Linked DNA regions of Homo sapiens. The protein of the gene in region 1 purifies or fractionates together with the protein of each later gene. This does not show direct contact. Each region holds a gene or a part of one and is shown on either strand. Other genes may lie near its edges.

What was found.
Region 2: the proteins of ZKSCAN3 (region 1) and IPO8 purify together in Homo sapiens (co-immunoprecipitation; one large-scale study listed by IntAct). This does not show direct contact.

What each region holds. Positions count from the first base shown.
Region 1 is NC_000006.12:28,348,450-28,353,045, forward strand, and holds the start of ZKSCAN3 (zinc finger protein with KRAB and SCAN domains 3), read left to right. Parts: upstream 1-1,497; 5' UTR 1,498-1,618; exon of another isoform or gene 1,619-1,939; intron 1,940-4,596. UniProt on the Homo sapiens protein: Transcriptional factor that binds to the consensus sequence 5'-[GT][AG][AGT]GGGG-3' and acts as a repressor of autophagy. Specifically represses expression of genes involved in autophagy and lysosome biogenesis/function such as MAP1LC3B, ULK1 or WIPI2.
Region 2 is NC_000012.12:30,678,708-30,682,530, reverse strand, and holds part of IPO8 (importin-8), read left to right. Parts: intron 1-713; coding exon 714-872; intron 873-1,892; coding exon 1,893-2,049; intron 2,050-3,823. UniProt on the Homo sapiens protein: Involved in nuclear protein import, either by acting as autonomous nuclear transport receptor or as an adapter-like protein in association with the importin-beta subunit KPNB1.

The DNA.
Region 1 (4,596 bases):
TCCATTTAGATATCCAAATATTACAGTACTATTTGTCAAGTAGCTCCTTTATTCCTCACTGATTTGTAATGCAATTTCCACCATATATCAAGCATCCACACATACATGTTTGTTGCTCAGTCCTCAGTTCTGTTTCATTGGTCTATTTGTCTGTAGTTGTGCCAATACTATATTGTCTTAGCTGCTATAATTTTATAATAAATTATATAGGGCAAGTTTCTGCAGCTCCTTCATTTGTTTTAAAAATGTCTCGGATTCGTGACTCTTTCATTATTCCATATACATTTAAAATCAACTAGTCAAGTTCCACTGAGCACAATTGGAATCTTGATTTGCTTTGTACTGGATTTGTGTATCAATTTAGGAAGGAATGATATCTTTATGATATTGAGTTCTCATATATATAGGTGTATATACATGTCTCATATACAGGTGTATACACATGTCTTATATACATAGGTGTATATACATGTCTTATACATAGGTGTATATACATGTCTCATATACATAGGTGTATATACATGTCTCATATACATAGGTGTATATACATGTCTCATATACATAGGTGTATATACATGTCTCATATACATAGGTGTATATACATGTCTCATATACATAGGTGTATATACATGTCTCATATACATAGGTGTATATACATGTCTCATATACATAGGTGTATATATATGTCTCATATATAGGTGTATATATATGTCTCATATATATAGGTGTATATATATGTCTCATATATATAGGTGTATATATATGTCTCATATATATAGGTGTATATATATGTCTCATATATATAGGTATATATTTCAACTACTTATCCCTAATGAATAAAGTTACTAATGTTTCCATTCAGGTATCTTTTGTAAGTATTTGCTTCTGTGATAGATGTCTTTTAAAAATTCTATTTTTATAATTTTGATGGAGAATGTGATTGTGAACATGAATTTTAAAAAGTCCAGCCAACTTGCTAAACTCTCTTATTAATCATCATAATTTGAGTGTTAGATTATCTTGGATTTTTTATGTAAACCACGCAGCATGTTCCTTAAAATTTATGTATTTAGAATTCATATTCTAATTAGGCAATGCAATCAACTCTAAAATTAAAAGTACATTTAAAACATGCACCCTAACACTTTCCTTCTCACTCTTGTCCCCGTTTTCACTCAGTTTCTGACCGTTCACCTCTCGTAGGTAACCACCATTATTAATTTTCCGATTTTTCCAGGGCTTCTTTGTGCCACACACGCACACATAATTTAGATTCTTTTTACTCTCTTCTATTCGCAAATATAGCAAATTATGAAAATAATTCTGCACCTTGCCTTTCTCCCTTAGTTATAGCTGGAAAAATAAAAATTTAAAAGCCTCTTTAATAGCAAAAGGGGAGGGGACACAAGGTGCCGAGCTAGCAAACGACAGAGTCTGTCAGGGAGGTGGCTAGAGAGGCCCGGAAGTGGCTTCTGTGCCCCGCCCTGCGGGTGGTTTGCTAGTTTCAAGCACTTTGTGAGTATGGGGTGAATCGGCGTCGGCCTTCCACTGTGGGGTTAAATCTCATCCCGCGGCTCTCCTCCTGTCGGTCCTGCAGTTCTTTTGTCCCCGGGTAGAGGTGCGTTTGCAGGAGTATGTGTGTGTGTGTGTGTGTGTGTGTGTTTGTGGAGAGAGGCCCTTCCCTCCCCAGTTCCTGCAGCCTCGGCTCCCAAGGAGGGAGACCCCTGCGAGAAGCCGTGGGGGAGGGAAGGGCGCTCTGCGGCGGAATGAAGTGGTCCTCGGCGTTCCTGCGTAGAGCCCAATATGGGTGTCCCTTGTTTAGGGCCGTTACCGAGTGTCCGGGTCGGTTCTTGAGGGTATTTGGAGACGGGATGCATGGGTCACATAGACAAGCCTCGAGAATGGGAGCCGTTACATTTTTGCACTGCCTGGTAACAAGGTCAGTTTCAAGGTCTTTAAATTATTCTGTGGTACTGGCCAAGAGCCAGAACGTTGGAGTCAGATTACCTGGTTCAAATCCTGCCTCTGCCACTTACTGGCTGTGTGACTTTTCACTAGTTCCTAAGCTCTCTCTCTGCCTCATTTTACTATTTTGTAAAATGGGGATAATATTCCCTAACTCACTGGGTTGTTGTGAGGATTGAATGCATTCGTATGGGTAAGGTGCAGAGTAAGCATGATTTAAAGATTTGCTTTTATTAGTGGTACTATTATTATTTATAACTATGATGACACATTAGTGACTGGCTTTTGTACGGTTGCTTTCAATTTTACTGTCATTCATCAATTCACTTTGTAATGGATGATTTCTATATTTTAGGAGGGAAAAATAAGATACTCTGAAAAAGAGCCTATCCCAAAGCAAAGACCAAAACTGGTTTGTGTTGGACGTTGTGATACTCAAACTCTCAAAGGCTTTAAGACTCGGGGGTACCTTTTCCTTGGCTGGAGATTAGGAGGAACAATAGAAGTTTTTAATAGTGAAAAAGGACTAGGACCCCTGGTTTTTGCAAAAATCTGATGTCCTGCTTAGTGCTGGAGATCCACCAGTTTTCGAGCTTCCAGGAACGCCCTAGCCTGAAACTGGCTTCATACTAACACCCTTCATTTCAACCCAACTTTTACAGGGTTAGCTCTTTCATAGACTTGTAACTCTTTTCTGTTAATGAGAAACTTTCCTTTCCTTATCTTCAGTATATTTACTGATTTGATAAATACTTTGTGTTGGCAACCAATTTCCCAATCTTGTGCCTTCCCACTGTGATCAGTTTGGCTCAGATCCAAGTAGGGGCCAGGTAGTGAAACCTAAATGGAGTTTGTGGAATAAATGATATAAATGTATCAGTGTTGTTTTCCTGCCATAGACTTCCTCCCTTCCCCACCGTGGACACCCTCCTCATTCCACTTGGGCTCCAGATTCACTCTGGGTTGGGCTGTGGCTCTCTCTCGCCTTCCTTGACCCTACCTTAATGCTTTTTGGCTGTATTATTCAGGAAGGAAAGAAGTTAGGACATTGTTTAATTTTCTAAAATTTTGGAGAGAAATTTAAACACATTTAATTGTAGAGAGAATGTTACAATGAACACCAATATAACCATGACTCAGCTTCAGCCATCATCTTTTGGTCATTTTCTTTCATTCTTCTTTTCCCTCCTTTCCACTCTCTTTCCTTCCCTTCTCCTCCTCCTTCCCTTTTGTCTCCCTCCTTCCCTTTTACTTCCTCCCTCTTTCCCTCTCTCCTTTCTTTCCCTCTCCCTCCTTTCTTTGTCTTCCTTTCCTTCCCTCCCTCTCCCCCTCTTTATCTCTTTTTTTTCCTCATTTCGTCCCTCTCTTCTCTTTCATTTTATAGCAAATTGCAGATGGAAACATTTTAGTTCACTCACAAGTACAAGTACTTCAGTGTCAATTTCTTATATACAGGGACTTTTATCTTAATATAATCATAGTATCATGATCACACGCAAAAAAATTGACAATAATTCCTTGATATCATTATCTTGATTTTCAAATAATTGTCTCAAATATTTCTAGAGTTTTTTTTTTTTACAGTCTTTTTACAGTTGTTGTTTTCAGTGGGGTCCGAATATGGTTCACCATTTGCATTTATTTGATAAGTCTGTTCAGTCTTCTAATCTATGACAGTTCCCATTCCCTCCCACTCCTTTTGGTAAAAATGCCATTTATTTGTTGAGGAACTTGAACCTTCTGTTTTATAAAATGCCTCACATTCTGGATTTGGTCGATTGCTTCTTTTTAGTATCTTTAACTTATTAGATCTCAAACTCAGCTGCACATCAGAATGACCTAGAAAGTTTTAAAAGTTATTGATGTATTAAAAGTCCCACCCCCAGAGAGTGATTTAATTGATTTTTTTTTCATTGCAATCTCCATCTCCCAGGCTCAAGTGATTCTCATGCAACAGCCTCCCAAGTAGCTGGGATTACAGGTGTGTACCACCACACCCAGCTAATTTTTGTATTTTCAGTAGAGACAGGGTTTCGTCATATGGGCCAGGCTGTTCTTGAACTCCTGACCCCAGGAAATCTGCCTCAGCCTCCCAAAGTGCTGGGATTACAGGTGTGAGCCACTGCACCCAGGCTGATTGATCTTGATTGTACCCAAGGCATTAGGATGTTTTAAAAGCTCCCCAGTGATTCTAATATGTAACAAAGTTTGAAAGCCTTTAATGTAATTTGCTCCTATATTTCACCTGTACACTGGTATTTGGATCTAAAGACTAGATTAGATTTAGGCTCACTTATTTTGGTATTATTAGCTCATGTAGGAGTACCCCAGATCTCTTGTGGCAGCTTATTAGGAGGAAGTATTTTCTGGTACTTTTGATTTGTGACAATCAATGGCTTCTCTCAGTTTCCTAATTTCCTTCTATTCCCTACCATCCTTTGAACTGTAGAGAGTTGGACTGAGGAATAGAGGTTCAGGAAGACACGGACTTGGAATTGTTTTTCCCTTTGTAACCTCTACCAGCCTTACATTTCTTTTCTTTTCTTTTTCTTTTTTTTTTTTTTTTTGAGGCAGAGTCTTGCTCTGTTGCCAGGCTGGAGTGCAGGTGCAGTGGTGCGATCTTGGCTCATT
Region 2 (3,823 bases), on another chromosome or scaffold:
TTATTTTAGCATTTAACTTTGTGGTTTTATTAAAGGAATATTTTCTTTTTCTGTTTTATGTCTCTTCTGTTGCCTTTTTCATTTATTTCTTTGGAAATAGCTCTTAGCTCTCCTCTTCAGGAATTGCCTCGCTAATAATACATGTTTCTTTCTTATACTTGGGGTACAAAAATTAGTATCTCAGACTGCTTTGGATAGATTCAACATACGATGTTGGGTTTTAATTGATAATGGATGAGTTCAAGGTTTTGGCCCATAGAGAAGCTTCCCACCATTATGTAGGCCTTCTTTGTACTTACTTGTACCATCTTTAGACTAGGTTTATCTGTTTGAAGTGTTATTTTTTCCCCCATTCAGGATATGGTAACCAAAATATGAGATATAATAAGCTGGAAATTTTACAGAGTGGAGGTAGATTCATTGGAGTTTTTTGAAAATTTTAAACTATTTAAAACAATTTTTTTAAACTGTATTTAGGATAAGATAGTTTGAAAGGTTTCATTCATTTTAGAAACTCACCCATTCTGTTTATTTTCAACAAGTTGAGCCACTGAGGATGTTTTTTAGATATGTCTTTTTCCCCTACCCCACATATGTAAGTATATAATACACGTAAATAGAAGATAACAAACTTTTATGTAAAATATTAGAGGTCTTTGAAACACAGTATTTATAATTACTTAGATTTTGGACTTTTCTTCCCTACTTTGTAGAGTCCAATTAACAATGTGTCTCCGTGCCATCATAAAACATGATTTTCCTGGTCACTGGCCAGGAGTGGTCGACAAGATAGACTATTACTTGCAATCACAGAGCAGTGCAAGCTGGCTTGGCAGTTTATTATGCCTGTATCAACTGGTGAAGACATATGAGTAAGTTGGTTTCCATTGGCTGAAGAAAGCAGCCTTGTGTAACTTAGAAATAATGAAGTTGCAAAGAGTGGTCTGTTGTGGATGTTCTGCACAGGTTATCAGATTAGTTTGGGAAATGTTGGGTTAAACATGCTTAAATGTGTTTATTTGCTGCAGTTATTGAAAGAAACTTTAATGTGCTGATGGATATTGCTAACCTCTGAGACAGTGATATAATATGAAGCACTTCTCAAACTTGTTAGTTGCACAGTACCATTTATTAACAGCTTTCCTTGGAAACTCTGATATAGAGATACCTTTATATTTGTCTTCTAGGGAGTATATTAAGTAAACCAAAACATTTACTTTTTTGGATGCAAGATAGAAAATGTTAACGTTTCTTTGCTAATGACATTCTTTTCCATAAAAGTAGCTTGGGTAGGTAGAGGACTAATATCACACTTAATAGTATTGCTTTCTGGTTTCTAGGAAGATTGCTACATGTGTATATGAAGTCCTGTAGTTCTCCTTTTAAACTGACTAGTTCCTACTCTGCTTATGAAATTTATAGAACATATTTTAGATTTATGGCAATTAAAGCAATCTAAGAGCACCTAAATTTTAAACTATTTTAACTACTCAATTCAGGGAGAAATATAATAAGAAAATTCCCCCCATATTATTTGTTATATAGTCTATTTAAAATAGCATAGCAACTTATATTTTATAGTAAGAATTTTGGCTGGATGAAAATTAATTTAAATACTAGAAACATTCATGTAGGAAAACTGCAAAATGGTCTCGGGTTGTTTTAAACTAGTCTAAATCTTTCCAGAAAGATTTTAGGTGTTGTGCCTAAAACAGGATGTGTTATTTTAAATTTCTTTTCAACTTAATTCTAGCAATTCAAACAAACTAGAAGCCAATGTTAATGACTTTGTTTTGTTAGTTTTATGTATTTAAAAAATATTTTATAATTTATTGTTGATGGTTCTTTGGGTGGGAAAAATTACTTTTCTGTTTTTGTCTTTGCTCATGTAGATATAAGAAAGCAGAAGAGAGAGAACCTCTTATAATAGCAATGCAGATATTCCTGCCTCGTATTCAGCAACAAATTGTTCAGCTCCTTCCTGATTCCTCCTATTATTCTGTATTACTGCAGAAACAAATTCTGAAAATCTTTTATGCACTTGTTCAGGTAGGTTTCTATTGCAGAAAACAAACATGGAGTCCTGTATTTCTGCCTGACACATGGAAAGTGCTCAATAAGTGTCACTTATTATTAAAAATTATTTTGTATTATCCCATATATTTCTTTAAAAAATGCTTATGAGGAACAGGTTCACAGAAATTAATTACCCAAGATCGTCTCAATGGCATATCTGCCCCTAAGTGCTTTTCACTCCAGTGTCTGAAATCATGGGTAAAGCAGAACCAGGGTAGGTAAACCTACCTGCTCTAAAACCTGATTACTCGCAACTATCTGTTCTGTAGCATTCCTGCCTATAGATTAGTTATGATTACAAGAGAAGAAGAAGGAAAAGAAGAAGGAAAAGAAGAAGGAAAAGAAGAAGGGAGTCCCTCTTCTATTGGGAAATCATATTGATGGTAGTTTCTTTGCATTTGACTCAAAGCTAACAGAGGATTTAGGGTTCATTTTCCTTGGTTTAAAATACTGCCTAAAAAAAAAAAATCTGAATGCTATAAGGGATACCAACATGGGAATCCGGAAAGAAATGAGAAGATAGAGATGGAATATGTTTGAAATATAAAAATATTTAACATCAAATCCTTGAAAGATTTGGGTAAATTATTTAGGTCTGATTGGAGGAAGAATAATTGTTTTCAGTCTTAACTGTTTGATGAATGAATTAAACTCTATTACATGCTTTCTAGTTGAATTTGTCGTGAGAAGAGGATGGTTTTGTTGAGCTCAAAAACCATGATAGTTTGGATCCATCCTTGGCTTTTTATTGACTTAGATACTTAAACTATTTCAAAATATTTTACTTTAATAAAGATTTATATTTTTATTAAAGCTTCCCCTTTTAAACTTTTAATAGGGATAGTCTGAGGCAGATATTTTTTTTTTTCCCCCAGAGCAGCCTTTTTGCAGGGAAAGAGAAGAGGGAAGGAGGCAAATGTGAGAAGAGAAGAAACTAGAATACTAGGAAAATATGTTCTCTCACTTGTTTTGAAATAATATTCAGAGGCCAGACTTCCTTTTTCTATTGGCAGAAACAGCTAGAAATTGGGAAGTAAGACAAAGGCTAATGAAATAATTTTTCTAAAGCCTCTACCTCTAATTGGTTTGCTAAGACGACAGAATCTTCATATTTTTCTCAGTCTATACTTGCTAAAAACCTGGAAAACCTCAACATTTTTAACCATTTTGGTAATCTGTTATGTACTAATACATTAATATTCTCCTCTGGGAAGTAGAAATTTAGAAGGCATTAGGAGCCACTATTACAATGCTGACATAAGTAAAAAGCGATAATATGAGAAGGAGCAGACAATTTTGTTTTTAAAAGTATGAGCAGCCGGGTGCAGTGGGTCAGGTCTGTAATCCCAGCACGTTGGGAGGCCAAGGTGGGTGGGTCACCTGAGGTCTGGAGTTCAAGACCAGCCTGGCCAACATGGTGAAACCCCATCTCTAGAAAAATACAAAAATTAGCCAGAAATGATGGCGGGTGCCTCTAATTCCAGCTATTCCAGAGGCTGAGGTGAGAGAATTGCTCAAACCCAGGAGGCGGAGGTTGCAGTGATCTGAGATTGCACCATTGCACTGCAGCCTGGGTGACAGAGCGAGACTCCGCCTCAAATAAAATAAAAGTATGATACAACAGATCTTGTCTAAGTAGCATAATATTTGTACAGGACACTTGGATATTCTATACATAAGCTCAGCCTAACCCTCAGCCTACTTCTCCTCTGTTCCCTATATCAAATCCAAATGGCTTCCAAATGCA